3 separate regions of the Homo sapiens genome follow, and all the other regions are linked to region 1. Evidence: fine-mapped expression QTL. A gene starts in region 1. Each other region holds a variant in brackets. All regions are shown on one strand. Distances are from middle to middle.

Region 1 (8,180 bases):
GGTACCTTCTGAGAGCTGGGCAGACAGCTTGCAACCACTCACTACCTCTACTGTCAGCTCCATCCAGAAAGCCCAAGCCAGTCTTGTTTACCTATAATAGTGCCTAGCCGAGTCTACATGAACTGCAGAAGATGTTCTGTATAGGCTCAAATATAAGTCAAGGATTTAAAAAATTTTCAAAACAAAATTGGAATTGTCTGATATTCAAGTCCTTATTAAATCACTTACATTAAAAAGCATGTTTTGAATTACTCAATGTGGAACCACAAAACTCTTTTAGCAAGACTCCCACTGCACTGAAACAATTTGATTGATGCTAGCTTGGGATGTTAAAGGGATTTTCTTGCAAAATAGTGAAAACAAAACAATAAACAAACAAGTTAGCCTGAGAAATTTAGCATACATTAGCAACTGCAAGGGTTAGACAGTACCATTAAAACAGGACTGTTTAAAGGTCACTTCAAGAAGTAACACATATGAACACACTTTAAGAAGCAACACACATATAGTATTTGCCAACAGGCAAATAAAAAGACCAACTCCTGATCTTAGGCTATGGGTACTCGTCACTGGGTATATTATTTCCAGGGGCAGCATCGTTAACTGACTCCACAAAAGCGCTTTATCTCAAATGGCTCAGGTGAGAGCAGAGCTGAGAGGTTCTGCTAACCACGTCAGGGGACTCCAAGTACTCTGGTGATCACCAAAACCGATGAAAAACAACAGGTAAAGAGTTCAGGAAAACACTGTTTTGTGTCCTGCCAGTAAAACCAAACAGAAATTAAAACTTTTTTTTAAATAAAGCTGTCAAAATATTGAACCGTAACAAAATTAATAAAGTAAACAAGCTATGCCAATACTTACCTATATACCTAAAAAGTATACATACCCTAATTGGCCCAAAAGAAGATGTAAGGAGCTTCTAATTGGAAAATGATGGGACTGTAATATTTATGGTTACCTGCTATCATGGCATATTAGTTAAATAAGTGCCCCTCTATTAAACAACATGCAACAACATCCAGCATTCAACTTTCCTGGCAGGAGTCAAGCAATTCCAATGGACAGTAAAGTACCAAAAGTAATTTTCAGCCGAAATCTTTGTCAACCAACTGTATAGGGTTGCTCAATGCCTGATATGCTATTACAATCCTTCCCACTCCCGAAGCATGTGCTGGACCTAATGCTATTATCCCAGCATGGTAGTATAGTGCTAGTGTAGTGTGAATACACCATGCGGGACTCCTGCTTATTAGTTAAATAAGTGCTCGTCTATTAAACAACATCCAGAAACATCCCAAAAACACAAAAAGTCATGAACATGACTATGCACCCATAAAGAAAGTCAACCAAGGGTCTCAACATATGGTGAGTAAAACATCAATTTCCTGCTAATACTAAATGTCACTACTAAAAAGTTCCAAGCTTCAACCCCTTTGACAAGTTCTAAAAGGTACTACAAATGCCACAGAATTCCCGGAGTGGCATCAAAGCTTCAGCCTGTCACATGTCAGAGGTTACCTCCTAACCTCCTGGTCAAACACAAAGTCCCCCAAGATAAACTGAGAGGACATCTGTAAACAGATGGTCATCAGAATGTCCCAGCGTTTTACTAGAAGCGGGGCTCCGAATATCACATAATTTATCAGAACAGAAGAAGGTAACCCACTTATTCTGCAAATAAAGATATTTAATTATAAATACCTTACATCAAAAACAGCAAGGCCAGGAAGGAAAAGTTTGAAAATTTCTAACGCAAGCATTTAGCTGGATTTAATCACAATTAAAACCAAAGAAAAAAATTCCCCTTCAGCAGTGCCCCCCAAGTGACCCCCAGTGACTATCCTTGACTGTCCCCATTCTTCCTGATCCATAGAAAAAAAAACCCATTGCAGCAAAGTATGGCATTTAACTCAAGCTCAACATCCAAGGGTTTAAGTTCCTAACCTTAACCTTAGAGATTTGCAGTACTGCCTAATCCAGGTGCTAGAATGTTCCCAGCATTTCAGGATTACACATAGTGGAAGGACTAGGCATCACCAACTCCTTAAATGGTCAAAAGTAGAGGAATAAAGTTGTGTTTCTAAAGCAAATGATTATTCCAATAGATAATGTATTTTTTTTAACATTTAAGTGCTTTTCTCCATTTAAAGAAATTAACAAAACCCGGGTCCTTTCTTTTCTCATTTAAACCAGCATCCCATGCCCTCTCTCCTGGTAACTGTTCACAAGGTGGCAAGGGTGTGTAATAAGAAGCTGTAAGAAGCTTTTAAAACCAAATCATTGAAGCCATCCAGAGAAGATCTTTCGTCTAAAACAGAAGCAGCGAAGGCCCTAAAATGCGGCTGTACCAAAAATAATAATAATAAATATAAATGACCCCCGTGGGAATGCAACCCTGCCTGGGAGCCCAGGAGAAGACCTTGGCTTCTGGTTAGACACTGCCAAGTCCAAAAGGGCTGGGTCAAAAGGCTCCTGGGGCCTCCAGATTAACTCCTTCCAGACTACTAGAAGCATTCCTCCAAACCCCAGTCCCACTCTGCCTTCTGCCCTCCCCTCCTTAGCCACACCGCAGGCAGGAGGCCCGCGGGCTTCCCAGAGCAGCCATCAGAGCCCTGTCAGAAACGTTAAGGGCTAACTTTTCTCTAGGCAGGCCCAGGGTGTGCAGAGGGAGTGTCTGGGGACCCAGAGGAAGAAGGTCCCCGTTTCTAGGGAGACGCAAGGGCGATGCTAAGTTTAAGAGGCAGGGTAACAAGTCCGGCCAAGGAATCGGGGGTGAGCGACGGGACAGGAAGGCGTGCCCACTCCACAGGAGGATGGGACACACGTGAACAAGCGGCGAGCTGCCCAGGGGCCGGATGCCGCCACCAAGCAAGCGAAGTTGGAGGAAGAGCAACAGCGGAGTGGGCCAACGCAGGACCACCCGTGGTCTCCTCCGCACCTCATCACTGCCCCCCACGCCCAAGCACCCACCCACACACTCCCACGTGCCGTGGCCACTTCCGCCGAGACAGATACTCACCTTTGCCGCCGGCGCGGTCCTGCTGGTCGCCAGCTCCCGCAGACTGCCGGCGGTGCTGCCCGCGGCCGCGGAGAGGAAAACCGGGGAACCCGGGGTGCTGCCTGCCGCGCCGCCCCCGCCGCCCGCGAGCGTGGGGGCCGCACTCTGGCCTGGGATGGGACGCGCGGGCGGGCTGCCGCCGGGGCTGGTGCCCGCGCGGGGCCGCTGACGGATGCCGTCCAGCAGTCGCACCAGCAAGATGTTGGCGGGCAGTTCGTCCACGCCGCAGCCCACCAGGATGCGGCACTCGGGGCAGCGCAGCTCGTGGCGCGAGCACACGATGCTCTCCAGGCAGCGGCGGCAGAAAGTGTGTTGGCATGGCAGCACCTTGGCCGTGGTGTCCAGGCGCTCCAGACACACGGAGCACTCCAGCAGGTCCAGCAGCGACGACTCGTCCATGTCCTCGCCCGCCCCCGCGGCGGTGGCCGCCGCCCGACGCCGCCGTCGCTCGCCTGGCCTGTCCTCGTCGCCCTCGCTCTGCGCAGCAGCGGCGGCCGCCTTGGATGCGCACAGCCAGGACGCTCCGAGCAGCATGGGGGAGGCGCCCGCAGCGGTCTCGCGCGGCTGCCTAGGTCCCGGGGCCGGCGTGGAGCCCGCCACCGGCAGCCAGCATCAGGACTGGGGAGCCGGGCTCCGCCGTGACTTTCTTCACCCCGGCTGGTGGCCCGATGCTAGGGCTGTGGCGGTGCGAAGTGGCTCACCGACCGGCCTGCGTGGCGGGGACCGGCCTGCGTGGCGGGGACCGGCCAGCCGAGCCCGCCCAGTCCTGAGCGCAGCGCCTGCGGCTGCGGGCTACACCTGTCCCGCCGCAAGTCCGCCCCGCGCGGGGGACCGGGGGTGCTGCCGGGCACGAAGCTCAACGGGTTCTGTGCTGCAAGCGGCGGCTCGCGCCTGGGAGACCAGCGGCAGGAAGTGCGGGCAGCGGCCGGCCAGGTCCCCGGGGAGGCCGGGGCGCGGCGTGCACGCTCCTCCGCGCAGCTGGCGAGCCGCACCGCCCCCGCGGCACCTCCATGCGCCCCTGGCCTGCTCGCTAGTCGCTGTCCTCCAGAGGATTCAGCAGGACCGTTCCTCTTCCTCGGCCGCGAGCACGTGCGCGGGGGTGCGCGCGGAGGTCACGGTCACTGCGGGGCTCAGGGAAGGAGGCGCCGTGCCTGCAGGACTTCCCTTCGCTTGGGCGCAAGCCGGCGATTAGCCTGGTCCCCTAGGACATCTCCAGGGCTCCGGGGAACCTCTCCTGCGCAGGCTTGGCCCTGCCTCCTCCAAGCGTCCGAGTCTTTTTCGGCTTTTCGTGAGCCTCAGAGAGGGACGTTTCCTGCCAACGCTGCTGCGAAGGAAAGTTTGGGCGGCGTTATCCCGACTGCCTTCCTCGCCAGCGCCGGCGAGCAGCTTGGGGACACAGCCGACGCCCGGGCATCCTCCCCGACGACCCCCCGGAGCGCTCCCAGTTCAGACTCCTTTCCGAGAAGCGCGCAGAAGTGACAGCCCCGGAGCTTCGTTCCGGTGTAGGTGTGGGGATGCGCCGCAAGGCAGGAGGGGAAGGCGCTCCAGTTGAAGGGGGCACCCCGGGGCCCGCGCCGACTCCTCCCGGCGCAGCCTTGGCTCGCCGGAGTCGCGGGTCGGAGGCTGGCGCCGCTGCCCGCCGACCAGCACCCTGGCGCCAGGCGCCCGGCTCCACGCCGCACCCTTGGCGACGCTGTGCGAGGGGCTCTAGCGCCCGCCGCGGCGCAGTCTCGTGAACCCCCGCTCCAATTTTTTCCTACGGAGGCGCAGAGGAGGGTGAATTCGCGCTCTCCTTCCCGACGCCCCGGCTTCTGGGAGCGTCAGAGCAACGGAAGTACGTACAGGAGGACCGAGAGCAGCAGGGAAGTTTGGCGGTGGGCTGGGGTCGGCGGCGAAGATTCCCTGCCGTGCGCTGCCCCCTCGTGGCCGCTTTGCGTTCCCGTCGGGAAGGGCTGGGTTCCAGTCCAGGGCCCAGCACAAACCAGGATTGGTTGGACGCTGCACAGCGAGTTCAGTCAGGGCTAACATCAGAAGAGTCGTGGGGGGCCTGCCTATCGGCCAGCCTGTCCTTGTGGTTTGTGAAGTTGTATGATCTTTCTGTTATTATTAAGGAAAAAAGTAGTATTTGTTGAGGCTAAAAGGCCAAGAGCGTGCTATATATTATTTAATCCTCTAAACAGCTCTGCCAGATAATTATTTTATTTATTTATATTTACTTCCATAGCTTTAGACAGGATCTCGTTCTGTCAGGCAGGCTAGAGCGCGGGGTGCTATCACGGCTCACTGCAGCCTCAAACTCTTGGGCTCAAGCCATCCTTTCACCTCAGCCTCCTGAATAGTTGAAACTACAGGTGCGCCACCACGCCTGGCTAAATTTTTAATTTAAATTTTTTGTAGCGACAGGGTCTCCTTATGTTGCCCAGGCTAGTCTCAAACTCCTGGGCTCAAGAGATCCTCCAACCTCATCTTCACAAAGTGCTGGGAGTACAGGCGCCAGCCACGGTGCCCAACCTGTGATAATTATTTTAAACTCATTTTACAAATGAGGAAAGTGATATTCATACTTGTAAAGCCATTGGGGCTGAATTTTCATTTTTGTATCCACAGAACTAACACATAAAGTTTACATGCCATTAGAATGTAAGCTCTCTGTAAGCTACAGATCTTTTCTACTGTAATATCCTTAGTGCCTAGGGCAGTGACTAGCATATAGTAGGTGTTCAATAAATATTTGTAGAATTAATGAAAGGATACGTCTCTCTTTCTCTCTCTCCCTCTCTCTCTCTCTCTCTCTCATCACCTACTGGTGATTTGAAGGCAGATCTTAGTATCTCAATTACACATATCCTGTGCTTATATCAGGATGCTAGTCCCTGGAAACTTTGCTTCTGATAGCAGCAGGTGGCTTTCTTAACCTGGATGTCTCTCAGCAATGTGGATTTCCATCTGTATGATTTACATCAGCGCCAACAACAGGGTGAGATGGAAAGCATCCCAGAGCTGCCTGGCTTCCCTTGAGGGCCGAAGGAAGGGCACACACCTCGCAGTGCATGGAAACATGTTCACATGAGCCACCTTTCACTCTTACCCTTGCTCAGGAACAAGGGGAATTTTTTAGAGCACCCAGGATGCTTGATCCAAGAGCAGATGGTAGACAAGGGGGAGCATAAAGAGGGGACCCATCAGGCACTGGAAGGGCTCACAGAGAGCAAGGACGGCCTGTGACGACATGCCCTGGTGCTTTTGGTTGCAAGCAACAGAAACCAACTCTAGGTAAATTTTAAAGGGAGCAGAATATACACTAATAATACGAGGCATCTCATAGGATCCCAGGCTAAGAGCTGAGCCAGATTAGCACAGATAGAGCCTGCAGTGTGTGTTGCTGTCCCTGTCTCTAGTTGATGACTCAACCCTTCACTTTCTTGCACCAGCTGCCTCTGCTTCCCAACCCACATGACAGAAAATGCGGTCAAATCTTCATGAGCCTTTCTTCCAACAACATCAGCCACTCCTGGAAGTTCTAAAACTCTATCACTAGTATGGACCAGTGGTCACTCTTTGGACCCGTGTGCCTTGGCCACAGGAGCAGGATCATCTGGAACCTGGCAGCACTCTCTGTAGTCACACAGGAGAAGTGAGAATTTCCAGAAGAATTGCCGTGCTGGGCAGTCAGAACCACAGATGCCCGTGCCAGAAGCTCACCGCCACATCTCTGCCCTCAGTACATCTTTATCTTGCACGACCCAAGACAGACAAGAGCAAGAGAGAGCCACTTAAGCCCACCTTTCCCAGCTTTCTTCTCTCTCCACTTTACCCCTTTTGCCCCTGCCATAACCAGCACCCACAGGACACACAGACTATGCACCCAGATGTCCACAGTGACTGGGCAGGGCATGAAATTAACGAAGCAGGGTGAACCCCAGGCAACAGGGCCTGGTGGGGACTGCAGTGAGCTTTGTCTGCACCCTTCAGAGGAAGTAGCTGCTGCCCAGCTCCAGCCCTGGGGGAATGACGACCAAATGTTGCTAGACCTTCATACCTTTCAAGAGAAGTTGGAAGTGCTGCTTTTTACATGACATCTCCTGATGTTCAACAGTTGGCAACCGATTTAGTTCTCAAAAACCACCATATTAGCCAAACAAAATAAATGTGTGGTCAAATTGGCCTACAGACCGCCAGTTTACAATTTCTGGTTGAAGTAGCCAAGTACACTGTGCTACAGCGTGAGGGAATTTGAGGGTGTGAACTAAATAGTTGAAGTATTACAAATACAGTCTTATGTTACTCGGTTAAATTTGCACATGTTCAATAAGCCAATTATATAAGTAAATAATTGAGAAGACCTGGCTTTACAGCCATTCCTAAAAAGATCTGGGGATTTCAGTTGACCACAAGCATTGTATGAGCCAACATGAGTCATCTATGTACTATGGCTGACTAGAGAAGTAACGAAATCTTCGGATGCCTTCATGAAAGTTAAGGTGGGGGGTGGTCAGGGTTTGGAAAAAAATAATCCCATTGTACCTCAGACTTGTGAGATTACTTCCAATTCTGGGTACCAAAAATTAATGACGATGTGGTAAGGGATCCGGAGGCCTCATCCATGAGTTTCAGTTGAAGGAACACAGGGCGTCTGTCCAAAGGAGAAAAAGCTCAGAGGAAACAGGACTGGACGGCTGTATGTCAGGTTTTTGGCGGCCCAAAATTTGAACTTCTTTTTAGATTTGGAAGACGCTCCACATGGTGATAGTCAGATAATTCTAACCCCCCCACCAACTCTGCTAAGGTGTGGGAATGTGACAGGCTCAGCTAGTCAAAAGCTGCCCCTCCCCCACCACACTCTGGGAGGTGGAGGGACGTGGGCAGAGGAAGCACCGAGAGTTCAGCAGCTATGGGGCAGGTGGCTGGCAGCAGCAGTGCCTGCAGCCTGTAGCATCTCAGAGTGGGGGCACGCCTTGGCAACAGGCCAACCCCAGACTTGACTGCCTGGTGAGCCTGGACTGTAGCCTCCACTGCTTTCCTGGCCTTGCTGTTGATCTTATGGGTTTTCCAATTTCATTTCCTTAGTTTCTTTTTCGTTAAATCAACCAGAGTCCATTTTTGTTGTTTTCAACTGGGA
Region 2 (8,180 bases), 98 kb after region 1:
CACCCCCCTCATTCATCCCAGAAGGCCCTAAAACTCAGAACAAACTATTTGCAATGAATCTAGGAGTACAGGATGATGAAGATGGGGCACCCGGCCCCACCTTAGCTCCATGAAGTGGCCTGAGCCAGGTGTAAAAGGAGCTGAATTTGCTTACATGGTGGCTCCAGAACCAGCTTTTGCCTCACTGTGCCTCCCTCTGCCTGCTGGCTTGCTGCTTTGTCTTTCTTCTTCGCCTCTCTTGCCATAGCCCCTCAGCTTGGCTCTGCAATACTCCACGTTCCTCACTTCCCTGTGCTTTCATTCCCTAAACGCCAGTCTCTTCCTCTGGGGCATGGCCCTGGGGCCTCCCACTGAAATTGACCCAATAGTCCCATAAATAGTTTTTTGGATAAACGTAGAAATTGACCCTTCTGGTTCTAAAGTTTGAACCTTCCTTTTTTTTTTTTTTTTTTTTTTTTTTGAGATGGAGTCTCACTGTGTCTCCAGGCTGGAGTGCAGTGGCACACTCTTGGCTCACTCCAACCTCCACCTCCCGGGTTCAAGTGATATTCTCCTGCCTCAGCCTCCCGAGTAGCTGGGACTATAGGTGCCTGCCACCACACCCGGCTAATTTTTTGTATTTTTAGTAGAGATGGGGTTTCACCATGTTTGCCAGGATGTTCTCCATCTCTTGACCTTGTGATCCTCGTGATCCACCCACCTGGCCTCCCAAAGTGCTGGGATTACAGGCGTCAGCCAACACACCTGGCTGAACCTTACCTTTTTTTTTTTTTTTGGAGTCAGGGTCTCCCTCTGTCGCCAGGCTGAAGTGCAGTGGTGCAATCTCGGCTCACTGCAGCCTCTGCCTCCTGGGTTCAAGCAATTCTCGTGCCTCAGCCTCCCGAATTGCTGGGACTACAGGTGCCCGCCACCACACCTGGCTCATTTTTTTTGTATTTTTAGTAGAGACGGGGTTTCACCATGTTGGCCAGGCTGGTCTCGAACTCCTGACCTCAAATGATCCACCCGCCTCAGCCTCCCAAAGTGCTGGGATTACAGGCATGAGCCACCGCCTCTCAAAAAAAAAGTATCATCAAAGAAGGGAAACTCACCAGATCAACACATCCAGACAATGAGATACCCTACATTGTGACTGCTTCCTTGCCCCTCCGTAGTTCCTGTTTTCTTACACACTGTTATCTTTCTTCCCTGGTGTATAAACCCCTAGTTTTAGGTGGATGGGGAGATGGATTTGAGACTGGGCTCCCATCTTCTCAGCTACAGCACCTGATTAAAGCCTTCTTCCTTGGCAATACTTGTCATCTCTGTGATTGGCTTTCTGTGCAGGGAGCGGCAGGACCTAGACAGAACCTGGGTGTTTCGGCAACACCACCTGCCTCTGCTTCCGAGGGCACACTCAAAAAGGAGGGGACTGGGCCCGTGCATTCACCTCAGTGTCTCTGTTTCACAAAAGGAGTCGTGGAAATCAGAATAATCAAAATCTCAGCTCACAGAAATGAGCGAGGCTGAATGCAAAATTAAAGTGGACAGGGCCCATCAACAGCCTGAAAGGGGCTTTGTTATTCCTTCCTAGGGAAGTCATCACCTCTCAGAGAAGTGTCTGGCTGAGTAATGACCAAACATGAAAGGTCTCTGTCCACTCAAGGCATGGATCATACTAAGGCCTGGTGATCAGTTTAAAGGAAATGTATTTCCCATGGCTGATGTCCACAACGTTCAGCTTCCAAGGGTTCAGGAAGGACTTATATTTCACCCTGCCATGACATGGGTCAAATATGAGGCCTCTTTGAAAATCCAGGGAAAATTAGCTCCTGGTGACATAGGATGCACTTCTTAGCTCCTAGTTGCCCATCTGGAGTTCTCTGTTAGGCCCACAGAATCAGCAAACTCTGTGTGGAATTAGGCGATTGCTCCTCAGTAGTGGCAGTGCAACCGGAGGGAAATTATTGTTCCATTCTGACTTGTGAGTTCCTATAAATCTTAGCTTTAAATCAAATGCTCTGTGAGTTGCTACAGGAGTTTCATTTAACCCACCAGCCTGTGCAAGAGGTGAGAGGTGGCCCGACTGTGAAATCCCAGAAGACACATCTAGTTGGCCAAGGCCTCTGCTCTCAGCTGGAGGAAAGACTCCCCCACCCCACCCCATGGGGAGGGGAGAAAGCGCATGGATGGAGTGGGATGAAGAATGGAGAGTGAGGAGAAAGCCCTTCCATGGTGTAAAAGTCAGGGCATCCGCTGAAGCCTCTCACACATTCGACCGATGTCACCCCAAGGAGCAGTTTCACCAGACAGGGTGCTGAGTCTAGCACAGCATCTGTTTGCAGACGGTGCTTGAAAGGACTGAGGTTGGGTCCTGGAGTTCTAAAGTTCTAACCCTTTTCTTCTGTCTTATTTCACCTTCCTGCAAAACAAAGAGGGGGTGGGGAGGGACAAAAAAAATCGCTATGCAGAAGTTCACTCCGGAAAATGCCCTGAAATAAAATCAACAAGATTGATGTGCAGGCAGACAGGTAATAACTTTAGAAGTGAAAGAAATCTCCAAAGATCTATGACATTTTTAACAAAACAGGGGGAAGGTGGGCAGCGCTCAAAACTGCAGAGCGGTAATTACACCCACAGGAAGTCTCTAATGAACTTGAAAACAAAGCTCCGAAGAAAGGGAAAGAAGATAACTGCAGAGTTCTGTTTACGTAACCGTAGGGGGTTTGAACACCAAGAACTTACAGCTCCTGAAACGCGGTGAGGAAATGGGAGGGAGGGCAGCGAGCGTTCAGAGTTTTGGCAAAAGGTCAAAGAGAGTGAACGGATGTGGGGGGAGGGGAAGAAGGTGGCGGGGGGTGGGTGGTAGCGCTCACGGGACAAGAAATTGAGCAAACAGAAAAGCTTAGTTGCTGAAGAAAATACTTAGAGGAAGGAGGGTTCTCTTCGCTGGGGGCAAAGTGGGGCAGCTTTATCCCGCCTGTGGCCCGGAGGTAGGCGTTGGCGCAGGTCTCGCCGGCGCCCGCAGCGCGTCCAGGTTGCCACCGGCAGAGCCCGGCCCACGTGGCCGACGCTGAAGCGGCGCTCTCCGTTCCTCCAGCGGGCGCTTCCCGGCCGAGCTGCAGGGGGTGCACACAGCAGAACTTCACTGCGCCCTCCTCGCCGC[A/T]CGTGGGGCCAGGCCGTGCGCTAGAGACCCGCGGACTCGGTGCAGCCCGGCGAGGCGGGCAGAGCCGACTGCTGGGTCTGAGCGCGCATCCCCTGCTGCTACTGATTGAAGCCCAGTCCCCGGTGCAACAGTAGTAAGAGGGGGCCTCCAGGGAAGTGATTCCGTCGTAAGGGGAACGGGGCTGATAACCTTATAAGAAGGCTGGAGGAAGCTGTTTCCTCCCTTCCGCTCCTTCTGCAGAGCGTTCCCGTCTCTACCCCACCCCTGCCACATCAGAGCCCCCATCTGTGCTGAGTCAGCCAGCACCCATCAAGAAGCCCCCATCTGTGAGGAACAGGCCCCCCTCACTGCTGACACCTTGATGGTGGACTTCCAGCCTCCAGCACGGTGAAAAGGAAATGGCTATTTATAAATTACTCTCTAAGGTGTTTTGTTGTAGCAGCAGGAATGGACTTAGGGACCCGGAGTTCTTACCATTGCCCAATCACAATACCCTTAGACTCCAGCATCTCCACACATGGCGTCCCCTCGTGGAGCGCTCCGTGTCTTACCATGAGTCAGTGAGACAAAAGGTGCAGATGACACTGATGGTGGTATACATGCACACTGTGTTAGTCTGTGTACTAGTTATGAGTATATATACCAATTATTAAACCATTTTACCAAGAAAATAAAGACTTGGGAGATGTTAAAAAACTGCCAAAGTCGGGTGTGGTGCACCTGTGGTCCCAGCTACTCTGGAGGCCGAGGCAGAAGGACTGCTTGAGCCCAGGAGTTCAAGACCAGCCTGGGCAACATAGTGAGACCTAGAAAACAAACAAACAACAACAACAACAACAAAAACTGTCAAGAGACAGAACCTGGATAAGAAGTGGGTTATATAAACCAAAGTGGTCCAAAAATTCAGATGCCTGAGGGGCCCCAAGCTGGTCCTAGGTACTCAGGAAAGTACAATTCTAGAAGGAGCCTTCTGCTTAACAGCCTGCTGGTCATCCTCAAAGAGGCCACCACTCCCCACTCCTTCTCAGGGAGCCTCATCCCATCAGACAGTGAGGCCCATTCTTTCATTCATTCAGGTCATATTTACTGTCTATCCAGAATGCACCAGGCACTGTGCTAGGTGCTACTATACACATTATCACATTTGGCAGGGTATGGCACACCTCTTCATTTAAAAATAACCTTTCCAATGACATTAACAATGGGCTTTACTTACGTGAAATTCACTTAAAATAGAATTCTAAGGAATTTTACGTAGCATACCATAATTTGGCTAGAGGAGAAGGCTGGGTCTTCAGTGGGAAAATGTTGAAGGTAAAGCACTTGAGCGCATGGCCTGCTGGGGAGAGTGCTGAGCCAGCTGGCTGTGCAGGGGAGGATTGAGGAAAAGGCTGAAAATGAAGGCTGAGGATCAGTTTCATGAGCTCTCGAATCCAGGTTGATTTGAAACTGTTCTTTGCATAGGCAGAACATTCTGAGGTAGCAAACAAAAGTTAGAGTCAAAGAATTCTTTCTAAAGAATGATGTCAAGGAGGCAGTAAATCTAAGACTCACCCACACACTCGAACTGGCACTCAGTAAATGCTTACTGAATGAATGAATCAATCAATCCATCAATACAGAGATAGCAACCAGGATCCTTGTCAAGTCAAGAGGGTTATTAGTATAGTATTTCTTTAAAATAAACAGCCTTATCTGTGAGCAAAATAAGAGGCTGCCCCTGAAGGCTAAGGATGTCTGCATCCATTTGAGAGAAACAGCCTTTCATTGTGCAATGATTAGGCTTAAGTTGCTGGCAAGGCTGGAGACAAGGATAGAGATGAAAGGCTGGATGATGGCTGCCGGGGGGCCCTGTCCTGCAGCTGTTCCAGCCAGGAAAGGAGAGGGGAACAGAGGAGACAGCACAGGCAGCAGGCAGGCATCCCAGGCCGAGGAAGGAGGGAGGGCTCCCCAGGGTCACCCTGCTCTACTTTTGGAGCCTGATGCTGTAAAGTTTGCCCGGCAGGGACACACATGCTGCAGAATCTCCTCTTTCCCCTCATTGAGAGGACCAGGTTTTCCCTTGGAAACGGACAGACACACACTGAGCTGCTGCTTCCCAGGAGGGCTGAGGCACCCTTCAATAACTTCAGGCATCAGTGTCAGCCACATCATGGTTTCCCACCTCCAGATTCCCATGCCTTCCTTACCCTAATGAAGTTTCTCCCATTTACACATGGTCCCTCATCATCCCTCTCCTGGATGCTTTACTAGCTTTATGGAAGGAACTTGGAGGAGTGGCCAAGGCAGAACCCAGCAGCTGCGGCCATGGGGGTGAATGGGGGCTGGGATGGGGAGGGACTCCATAGACTCAGTGTTGACATGAAGGAGGAAAGGGCCCAGGTGTCCTATTAACAGTAATAACAATAATCTTGCCTTAAACCTTATTTATTTATTTATTTATTTTATTTATTTTTGTAGTTTAGAATGAGGTGAGGGCTAAAGAAATAAACAATCACATAGGCCGGGCACAGTGCCTCACGCCTGTAATCCCAGCACTTTAGGAGGCTGAGGTGGGAAGATTGCTTGAGCCCAGGAGTTTGAGACCAGCCTGGGCAATATGGCAAAATCCTGTCTCTACTAAATAAATAAATAAATAAACAAACAAATAAATAAATAAACAATCACAACTAAAGTCGTGACAGCCAGATTCACACATGCATTCTCAGTTGGCCCTCACAGTCCCTGACAGCCACACAGATCCTGAGAGTGTGAGGCTGCTCTGGAAGACAGGAGTGGGGCTTAGACCCGATGACCTCTAAGCTCTGTTCTGCTGCTTTAGGTCCAGGGTCAAGGTGTAGGAGGGGCAAGATATGTGTGGGGGAAGGGCAAGAACCGGGCCTACTGACTTAAGCTACTCATTTGGGTGCATGTCTGCCACCCTCGGAGGGCCTGTGGAATAGGTCAGAGCACTCCTCTAAGTGAGGGCTGTTGGGATCGGATGCTTAGGGCACAGCAGAGGAGATTGAAACAGCATTCAGCACTGTCCAGATGTTGATGCAAGGACTGTCACCCTCAAATACAGTGTGTCAGCCACCATGAGCCACTGTGCAGGAGGGCCTGAGGGTGGCGTGTGGAGACAGGCCTCCCAGCAACGGGGAAGCCAGGGTGCAGCAGCAGGGCCTACCTTCTTGGTGTAAGGCTCTTCCTTCAGTGGAGGTAAGGGCCGTGGCCCAGCATGCACTTTGTACTTTCCATTAGCCCTGAGGCTCAGGTGTCAATTATGGTTTAGCATTTAAAATCGAACAATATGTTTTTATTTTATTTATTTCTTTTGAGACAGGGTCTCACTCTGTCACCCAGAGTGGAGTGCAGTGGCATGATCATGGCTCACTGCAGCCTCAACGTCCTGGGTTCAGGTGATCCACCCACCTCAGCCTCCTGAGTAGTGGAGACTACAGGTGTATGTCACCTGGCCCAGGTAATTTTTTGCATTTTTTGTAGAGACAGGGTTTCACCATGTTGCCCAGGTTGGTCTCAAACTCCTGGGCTCAAGATGTCTGCCTGTCTTGGCCCCCCAGTGTGCTGGAATTACAGGCGTGAGCCACCTCACCCTGCCAGTATGTTTTTAAACAGTACCAGGAAAGCCTTGAGCTCTTCCCTGCCTCAGCAGGACACATGCATTAACTGGCAGAGCCCAGTGCTCCCTCTGAGGATGGATCTGTGAGTAGCAGCTCTGGGAGAGACAGAAGTAGGGGACTGGCAGGGACTCAGAGCCTGCAGGGAGAAGGAAGACGCATGGCGGGGAGGCCAGCATGCCAGGCTGCAGAGCTGCCGCCCACCCACCCCGCCCACTCCTGGAGCCCAGGCCCTCATCAACTCTAGGTCTTGCTCCTGGCCTAGGTCCTGCTGAGTCCCCATAGTCATAACGACGCTTACGCAGCACTGCTTCCTTCCAGATACTTTGTCCACGTCAGTGCCCAATAACCCTGTGAGGTCTGTCACCACTTACAGGAGGGGAGCTGAGGCCCAGGAGGGCTTAGGCCCTGCCCAGGGTATCATAAACAGAGGGTGGATGGACATGCCAGGCTCAGAGCCTGTGCCTTCATGTCAGGCTCCACAGGCTTCCTTGGCTCCATGCTGCCTTCAAAAGAGGAAAGTTACTTTTGTCTTCAAAATCCAGTCTTTCCTTATGGCTTCAAAAGCTCTTCCCTTGAAGACTCCACAAAGGAACAAGATGTCTGGGGTCTGGCTGGGCCCAGGAGACCTCTGCAATGCCTCCAAGATGAGGCTAGTCCCCCAGGAGACCCACCCTCCTTCAAGAAGTCTTCAGAGGTCCTTGTTTTTTTTTTTTTTTTTTTTTTGAGACAGAGCCTCACTCTGTTGCCCAGGCTGGAGTGCAGTGGTGCAAATCTTGGCTCACTGCAACCTCCGCCTCCAGGATTCTAGTGATTCTCCTGCCTCAGCCTCCCAAGTAGCTGCTATTACAGGTGCGAACCACCACGCTCAACTAATTTTTGTATTTCTAGTAGAGATGGGATTTCACCACGCACCAAGCTGGTTTTAAAATCCTGACCTCAAGTGATCTGCCCACTTTGGCCTCCCAGAGTGCTGCAATTACAGGTGTGAGCCACCACACCCGGCCAATGTCTTCAGAGGTTCTTTTTTATTTTTTGAGACGCCCACCACCATGCCTGGCTAATTTTTTGTATTTTTAGTAGAGACGGGGTTTCACCACATTAGCCAGAATGGTGACCTCGTGATCCACCACCTTGGCCTCCCAAAGTGCTGGGATTACAGGCGTGAGCCACTGCACCCGGCCACTTCTAATGATTTTTAAGAAGTATTTGGCAGCTCTGAATTGGCAAGTGTGGAAATAAGACTGAGAGGAGCAGCTGTTTCTAAAAGATCATTTTGAGCTTTTTCCCCACCTAGAGGGTGCCGAGCAATCAGGATGTGAGGGGCACAGTCTGGGCTGCTGCTTTCCCCACTTGAATACATGACATATCCAGTGTATCCTACACTAACGGTGCTTCCTCACCTTAGAGCTGGGAGC
Region 3 (8,180 bases), 96 kb before region 1:
ATAAAAATCCCTACAAGTTGGAGTTTGGGGAGATTCTGGCTGGTGGATGCATCCACCCACCTGGAGAGGGTACATCTAACTCCACAGAGACGGAAGCCCCTGTGCTCAGGACCCTTCCAGACCTCGCCCTATGTACCTCTCCATCTGGCTGCTTGCCTGTATCTTTTATCATGCCCTCCACTAATATAATAAACCAGATTTGCAGCCACGCCACACAGAAGTTCCAGGTAACCTGAAGACACCTCTTGCAACTGGCCTCTGAAGTGAAGGCAGCCTGATGAGATTGAGCCCTTAACCTGCAGGGTCCATACTAGCTCCACATGGAAGGGGTCAGAACTGAACTGAATACCCAGTTGGCATCTGCAAACAACTGGAGAATTGCTTGGTGTGGCAAAACCCCACACACATCTGGTATCAGAAGTGTTCTGGGTGCATTGTGGGTATCAAGGAAAACAGTTGGTTTTCCTCTACAGGGTGACATGTGGAAATAGAACACACATCCCAAACATCTTCAGACTAACAGAGATGCTGTCTACAACACATTTATTGCACCTGCTCATTAATGAGACAATAAAAGCCTTTGGGGGATAGACACGCACTGCTAACACCTGCCACCAAGCACATTCCTGGGGACTAGGAGGGCTGCCGATTGAATTTCTGACAGTATTATAAGCAAGTAGCACCATGTTTGCCAAACGTTGCAAGTACATCATTTGCAGCATGAAAACACAGCCATTAGAGATTGCCTGTATGTGTCAAGAGAGAGTAAAAGTACCAAACCAGACACTCGTACCTGTGTCTGGGCATCACTTTCCTACAAATAAAGGAAAACACTGAACTATTCCCCACTCTTTCCTACCCACAGCAAATGTAAATCCCATGCCCCTTGAGCCAGAAAAGCACCAATGCACGTTTGTTTGGGAAACATCAGGAATGACGGTCACCATCATGAAGCCTACAGGGAACTGCAGTTGCAGACAAACCGATGAAAGGCGGAGCGACCGAAGGGCCAAGGGAGATTGCCAGAGTGAGCGGGAATTCGGGAAAGGAAGTGTTGACTCCAGTTGGCTGGGGGGTGACCTACCCAGAAAAAGAACTTGCGTTGGACCCGAAAGGACTGCACAAGATTCTGGCACTTGCAGAGAAGTGGATCCTGTGACCTGCAGGGAGCACAGCACAGAAGCAGGGGAGCTGCCGTGTACCCCATGAAGCCAGTGGGCATGGCCAGGCCAGATCCAGGGGAATCTCCCACACACAGACAATCCCAAGAGCCAGGGATCTCCCAGAGAAGCAGACAGGGATGAAGGGCAGGGCCCAGGCAGACCCGGGAGCCCACACAAAGCACCCAACATGAAGCAGTCCCTGATAGCTTCAATGTCACCATCCTCATAACTCCAGTCGCATTTGGTTTTTACTTGACTGTGAGAACTTGTGGCTTAGTAAGAAGAACAGCTGGTTACAGAAATGAACCAGGACCCCTAAGGACCTGAGAACCAGGACTTGAGAAGTCCCTTAGTATTGTGACTTTCTGGCATGGACGTGTAGCTTTGTGTGCCTGACATTCACAGAGCTTCTTCTAGCTACAGGCACCAATTTTCTCTTAGCTCCTTCCCCCAACTTTCAGCCCCTGAGGCCTGGGTGGGATCCTCTCAATTTCAGGAGAAAACACACACCCTAAGTCTGAGCCAACCACTGCCACTGCCATCAGTTCACTCAGCCGGAGTGAATCTCGTGAGTTCTGCAGATGTTCCAGCAAAGACCCCAGAAACATGACAAAGACCCCTAAAGCCCTCTTGCACCTATGAAGAGGACAGTGGAGCTGCTAGGCCACCATGGAAAAGCTTGGTGGGACCCAGAGCTAGAAAGAGACCAAGTCCTGATGGCATCATCTGAGCCATGAACCCGGCCATGGTGGATGCATCTACCTCAGGACCCTTGGTTATCTGGGCCACCACACGGCTTTGCTTCTCTCTGTGTTTTGACTGATTCCAGTTAGTTTCTCTCCTGCAGCTGTAGGGGTCCTGGTTCATTTCTGTAACCAGCTGTTCTTCTTACTAAGCCACAAGTTCCTTAATGGCACAAAGCATGTCTATATCTGAATGTCCCCTAAAGATCCAGCACCACGCCTTCTGCGTGGAGATCCTGCAAAGACTTAGGAGCAAACGGAGCCACAAAGGGAGCAGATGCATGGCCCCGGGAGAAGTCAAGATGGCAGACCAAGAAACACTCAGGAAAGGGGAGCGATTCAAGAAGCAATGAGAAAAAGCTAAGAGTGATGAGCCACAAAGTCACCCTAAGAACAGTAAAAATCTAAACTTTAAAGGGACTTAAAAAGAAGTGGTTGCTACAGTTTATTTTTGGTTTATGTCTTAAGAGGTCAGCAGGGTACTTACTTAACGATGAGGACTGCACATGGGCCACGTGTGTCATTAGACCTCACATGGCTCCAGTTCCTCCATGGGCCACAGACACTGTAGATGAAACAGCTGACCTTCCTGAGTCAATGTGACTTTAGCTTTGAAACAGTTGGCAGGGTCATGTTCAAAATGAGCTTATTGATCTGTTTACATAACTACTCTTACATTAACTATTGTAACAAAAAAAATGTAAAAGGAGCCAGTCTTTCTCTAAGTTCCTTCTGCAGATGTTGACAAGCAGAGCTGTGAGCTGGGTTCATAAACCTGGGAAACAGATAATAACTGCTATTTGGGGACAACCTCCTCTGACATTTCCTCCTAAAATTAACAAGTGATTTAGCCTGAGTCAAAAATGACAATATTACAGCTATGCAGATAAGTTGTTCAGGGTCAGGCCTATTTTTTCCTGACAAAATACTACTCTAATATTAAAATGGTATTTTGGTGATTCATTGTGGAGAGCTCCAACAACAGATTAGAATAGGGACTCTTTGAAAGCAAACTTTTAGCTGGCATGGTGGAAAGCGACTATAGTCCCAGCTACTCGGGAGGCTGAGAGGGGAGGATCACTTCATCCCAGGAGGTCAAGGCTACAGTGAGCCGGGATCGCACTTCTGCAGTGCAGCCCGGGCAACAGAGCGAGACCCTATCTCAATTTTAAGAACGAAAGAAAGCAAACTTGAAACTAACTTATAAAAATAAATCTTAAAATTTAAGTCTAGGACAAACACACCACCTGCTCTCCTCTCTGTTCCTGATATTTACAGGAAACAAGACGGTCATCTTTTGATTTTCTAAATTCAAACATGAAAGTGACTTAAGACATTGCAAATGGGAAGTCCCAGAGAGGAACGTGGAGCATCCCACATTAAAAATCATTCCCTGGCCTAACTCTCAGGAGAAAACTCCACATGGTGAGTGTGAGTGGGCCAGGTGGGTCAGCCCACCCAGTCCCCAGTGGGGAGTCGGCCTGGCCTGTATCTTTAAAGGGAGTTGTTTGTGTGAGAATCGTTGTGAAACCTGTTAACGTGCAGATTTCGGGTCCCTGTGAAATGGGTCCAAGCGGAGCCC[G/A]GAAACCCACATTTTGAAACTTCCCTTGGTTACTTGCAGGTCTCTCCACCCAGCTGAGTACAATGGTTTGAGGACTATTCAGCCGGATCCCCAGTGTTTAATAAGCCTTCTTTATTATTATCGTTATTAAAATAGAGCTCTTCATATCCCAGTTGCCAAGAATGGGGCAAGATAGAATCTCAGAACTAGCAGAAGCCATAGAACCTCATTTTACACAAGAGGAAACTGAGGCCAGGGAATTTAAGGGACTGTGCTGGTGTCATCCAGCTTAGTTGGTTGGTCTAAACGAAAAGGCTCCAGGCCAGGTGTCAAAAAGCTATGTCTCAGTCACTTCCTTCTTCCAGACAATCTTTCCTTCAAACCCACAAAATTCTTTTTAAAATAAGATTTTTAAAAAGATAAGGTTATGCTGCAGTTCTCTAGCTGTCCATTAGAGTAGCCACTAGCCACAGGTAATTATTTAAATTTCAGTTTTAATTGACTAGAATTAAATGAAAAAAAATTTTTTTGAGACAGAGTCTTGCTCTGTCACCCAGGCTGGACTGCAGTGGCATGATCTCAGCCCACTGCAACCTCCCTCTCCAGGTTTCAAGCGATTCTAATGCCTCAGCCTCCCAAGTAGCTGGGATTACAGGTGCCCACCACCATGCTGGGCTAATTTTTGTATTTTAGTAGAGACGGGGTTTCACCATGTTAGCTAGGTTGGTCTTGAACTCCTGACCTCAAGTGATCTGCCCGCCTTGGCCTTCCAAAGTGCCGGGATTACAGGTGTGAGCCACTGCGCCTGGCAAAATGAAATTTTAAAAGCCACTTCCTGAGCCACGCCGGCCACATTCATGAGCTCAGTAGTCACCTGTGGCTGGTCGCTACTGTACTGAACAGAGCAGACACAGGACATTTCCATCACTGCTGCTATGCACATGACCTCAAAAACTGCTTCAAGTCCCTTTTACATCAGAACAAAATGCAGATTTAATCTTGGACTAAACCCAGCATGCAATCAAAATCCCACATGCGTATCTGAAAATGTGCTTATTTGTCCAATATGTGACATATAGTTTTAGCATCACTAATAATACCAAACAAGTCTTATTTTACTATGCTTGGTAAAAACCTAATTTTGATAGATCTGATTAGCTATTCAAGCCAAGTTTAAACTCCCAATGCCCACACCCCCTCCATTTGCACATGCACACACACTCTCTAGGCCTGCCAAGCAGGGGCAGAAGTGGGAGACCAGGCCTCAGTTTCTTTTTGTGTAAAACAAGGGGCGAGGCTAGGTAAACCCTGAAGCTATTCCAGCTCTTAACATTCTATCCATTAATGAGCCATGTGGACAGATTTTATTGATTGAATTTGTTTTTGAGACGGAGTCTCACTCTGTCACCTAGGCTGGAGTGCAGTGGCACAATCATGGCTCACTGCAACCCACACCCCCCAGGCTCAAGTGATCTGATCCTCCTACCTCAGCCTCCGGAGTAGCTGGGACAACAGACATGTGCCACCACATCCAGCTACCAAGTGGACAGATTTTAATTTCACTTTCTGCACAAACATGTATTGAACACTTTCATGTGCCAGGAGCAGAGACTAGCAGGGATGGCTCAGAGGCTGTCCTCCACGGCTCTGCAAGGAAAGACAACGACACATCCCGGATCTCCACGTTGGGGCAGCATCACGTGGGGGGCAGAATTCAGGGGAGAGCCATGGAGAGGTGCAGGGCTACCCAGGGAGCACTAAGGAGCTCCAGTTGTCTGCATGGTGCTACTGCCCTCCACCGATGCTTGAATGGAGCCCGCAGCTGAAGCATGTGCCCACACCCCTCAAGCCCTTCCTACGCTTCCATTCTGCTCATTTCCAGCCACTGACCTAGGACTGACATGGGCAGGCCATGCCCACTCCCAAAGGGGGACAATGCCTGAAATAACCGAGGAATCAAAGCACTTCGGCAACTCCATCACAGCGAGCACACGGCAGCTCCTAGTGGCCACTCCTGCTTCTTCGGGCTTCAGAACGCCCCTCTTGGCTCTGTCGGCTCTGGGAAACACACCAGGTAGGCTGCTCACGTGGCTGGTGCTCACGCAGCCTCTGAGGGCTCTGGATCTGGTAACAGCCAACTCCTGGTTATCAGGGCACTTGACTGCATGGGACGGCAGCAAAGGGGGACAAAGCATTCATGATCTGTGGCAGCAGCACCCATGCTGGTTTCAGGAGAAGGTGGCAACCTCATCCTCCCACCTCTCTCCAACCACCTGCTTCCCCCTGTCTGGGATGGAGAAGCATCAGGGCGTGGTGCCAGCCTCTGCCAAGAGGTGGGATCACACCATCTGATGGCCACAGGGGCGGACAGTGCCCTCTTCACCCTGAAGGGTGCAGTGAGTACAGACCCTGTTGATGGGAGAGTATGGGGACCGTAGCCCCAGGCAGGGGCAGGTCCATCCCTCTCACAGCTGGCTGAGTCCCCATGTGGGATACACGCGGACACCTTGGGGATGCCATGTGGTCACAGAGGACCTGCGCTGCTGGCTGAGAACTGGAAAATGTGCTTTATTTCCTGTGTTTTGTTTTGTCTTTTAGCAAACCAAAAAGTCCTTAGGCAGACCACCTAATTTAACAGAAACACTGGATGTCAGTGGTAGAAGAAAGGAGCCCACGCCATCCCAGGGTTTTAGGGAGGAGGTACAGGGAAGGCCTGGCCAGGCTCCACAGGGCCAGCATAGGCCACCAGGGCACCACCCTTCCTAGGCCCAGTCCAGGGCACACGCGTGCTGTGGATGCTGGAGGCTAAGCCCAGGGCCTGCTCTCCTGGCCTCTCACCCTTGCCCCTCCAACAATGCACTCCCTCTGCTGAAGGATGGACTCTTTTTATTTTTTTGGAGGAACTTTTACTGATACATAATAATTGTACATATTTATGGGGTACATATAATATTTTGATACATACAATGTGTAATGATCAAATCAGGGTAACTAGCATATCCATCACCTCAAATCTTTATCATTTCTTTGTGTTGGGACATATTCAAATCTCTTTTAGCTATTGTAAAATATACAATAAATTGTTGTTAACTAATCACCCTGCTGTACTATCAAACACGAGAATTCATTCCTTCTGACTGTATGTTTATACCCTTAACCAACCTTTCTTTACCTCCCTACCACCAACACATCCTTTCCAGACACTGGCATCTGGCACTCTACTCTGTCTTCATGCGAGCACCTTTTTTAGCTTCCACATATGAGTGAGATCGTCCAATATTTGCCTTTCTGTGCCTGGCTTGTTTCATTTACCATAACCACCTGCAGTTTCATCCATGTTGCTGCAAATGACATGATTTCATTCTTTTGAAAGGCTGAATAGTATCCCCTGTGTTTTTTTTTTTTAATCCATTCATCAGTTGATGGACACTTGGGCTGATTCACATCTTTGCTATTGTGACTAGTGCTGCAATAAATGCAGGGGTGCAGGTATCCCTTTGATACACTGATTTCTTTTCCTTTGGATAAATACCCAGCAGTGGGATTGTTGGATCATATGATAGTTCTAGTTTTCGTTTTCTGAGAAACTTTCCTACTGGTTTCCATAGTGGCTGCCTTATTTATGTTCCCACCAATAGTATATGTGAGTTCCCTTTTCTCCACGTCCTTAATCCCATTAAAAATTGGGGAAGGAAAGGAAGAGACATTTCTCAAAAGACACAGAAATGGCCAACAGGTTTATGAAAAAATGCTCAACATTACTAACCATCAGGAAGATGCACACTTTTTTTTTTTTTTTTTTTTTGAGATGGAGTCTCACCCTGTCACCCAGGCTGGAGTGCACTGGCGCGATCGCGGCTTACCGCAGCCTCTGCCTCCCAGGTTCAAGCAATTCTCTGCCTCAGCCTCCCGAGTAGCTGGGATTACAGGCGTGCACCACCACACTTGGCTAATTTTTGTATTTTTAGTAGAGACAGGGTTTTGCCATATTGGCCAGGCTGGTCTCAAACGCCTGAGCTCAAGTGATCTGCCTGTCTCAGCCTCCCAAAATGCTGGGATTACAGCCGTGAGTCACCTGGCCCAGCCAGGAAGATGCACATTAAAACCACAATAAAATATCACCTCCACCCAGTTAGAATGGCTGTTATTGAAAAGAAAAAAATTAAGAGAGGCTGACTAGGATGTGGAAGACTGACTTTTTATTCCAGGTCCATGGTTCCTCTGTGCATGACTTGTATGCACCTCACTTATTTCACTCAGCATAATGACTTCAAAGTTCATCCATGCAGCACGTGTCATAACTTCATTTCTTTCTAAGGCTGAATATTCCTCAACTGTGTATACATACCACATTTTGTTTACCCTGTCATCTGTCAGTGGACATTTGGCTATTATGAATAATGCAATTATGAACATTGGTGTACACATATCTGTTTCAGTCCCGGTTCACAATTCATTTGGGTATAAGCCTAGGAATAGAACTGCTGGATTATATAGTTAATTCTGTGTTCAAATTATACAGTAATTGCATGTTCAAACTCCTTTCACACTGTTTTGCACAGCAGCTGTACCATTTTATATGCCCACTAGCATAACAATTTCTCCACATCCTAACCCTTATTATCTTCTACTTTTTGGAAAATGCCCCTTCTAACAGGTGGGAATGGTTTCTCACTGTGGTTCTGATTTGCATTCCTCTAGTAACAAATGACA

The links. PIP is the estimated chance that this variant, and not a neighbour inherited with it, causes the effect.
Region 2: its variant is fine-mapped to the expression of SH3RF3 in whole blood (INTERVAL, PIP above 0.99).
Region 3: its variant is fine-mapped to the expression of SH3RF3 in whole blood (TOPMed, PIP above 0.99).

What each region holds. Positions count from the first base shown.
Region 1 is chr2:109,124,956-109,133,135 of GRCh38, reverse strand. SH3RF3 (SH3 domain containing ring finger 3) reads right to left here and starts at 3,931. Exons shown (of 10, transcript NM_001099289.3): 1 at 3,023-3,931. The coding sequence starts at 3,595. SH3RF3-AS1 (SH3RF3 antisense RNA 1) reads left to right here and starts at 3,017. Exons shown (of 1, transcript NR_029193.1): 1 at 3,017-5,809. It also overlaps a transcript of RANBP2 not described here. RefSeq lists silencers at 3,916-4,115, 4,146-4,195, 4,206-4,275, 4,656-4,715.
Region 2 is chr2:109,026,551-109,034,730 of GRCh38, reverse strand. It overlaps a transcript of RANBP2 not described here. Among named protein-coding and RNA genes, the nearest start is that of EDAR, 41 kb to the right of the region's middle. The variant A/T (reference allele first, on the strand shown) is at 3,146.
Region 3 is chr2:109,220,674-109,228,853 of GRCh38, reverse strand. All of the region lies in intron 1 of SH3RF3 (SH3 domain containing ring finger 3), which reads right to left. It also overlaps a transcript of RANBP2 not described here. Among named protein-coding and RNA genes, the nearest start is that of MIR4265, 83 kb to the right of the region's middle. The variant G/A (reference allele first, on the strand shown) is at 3,489.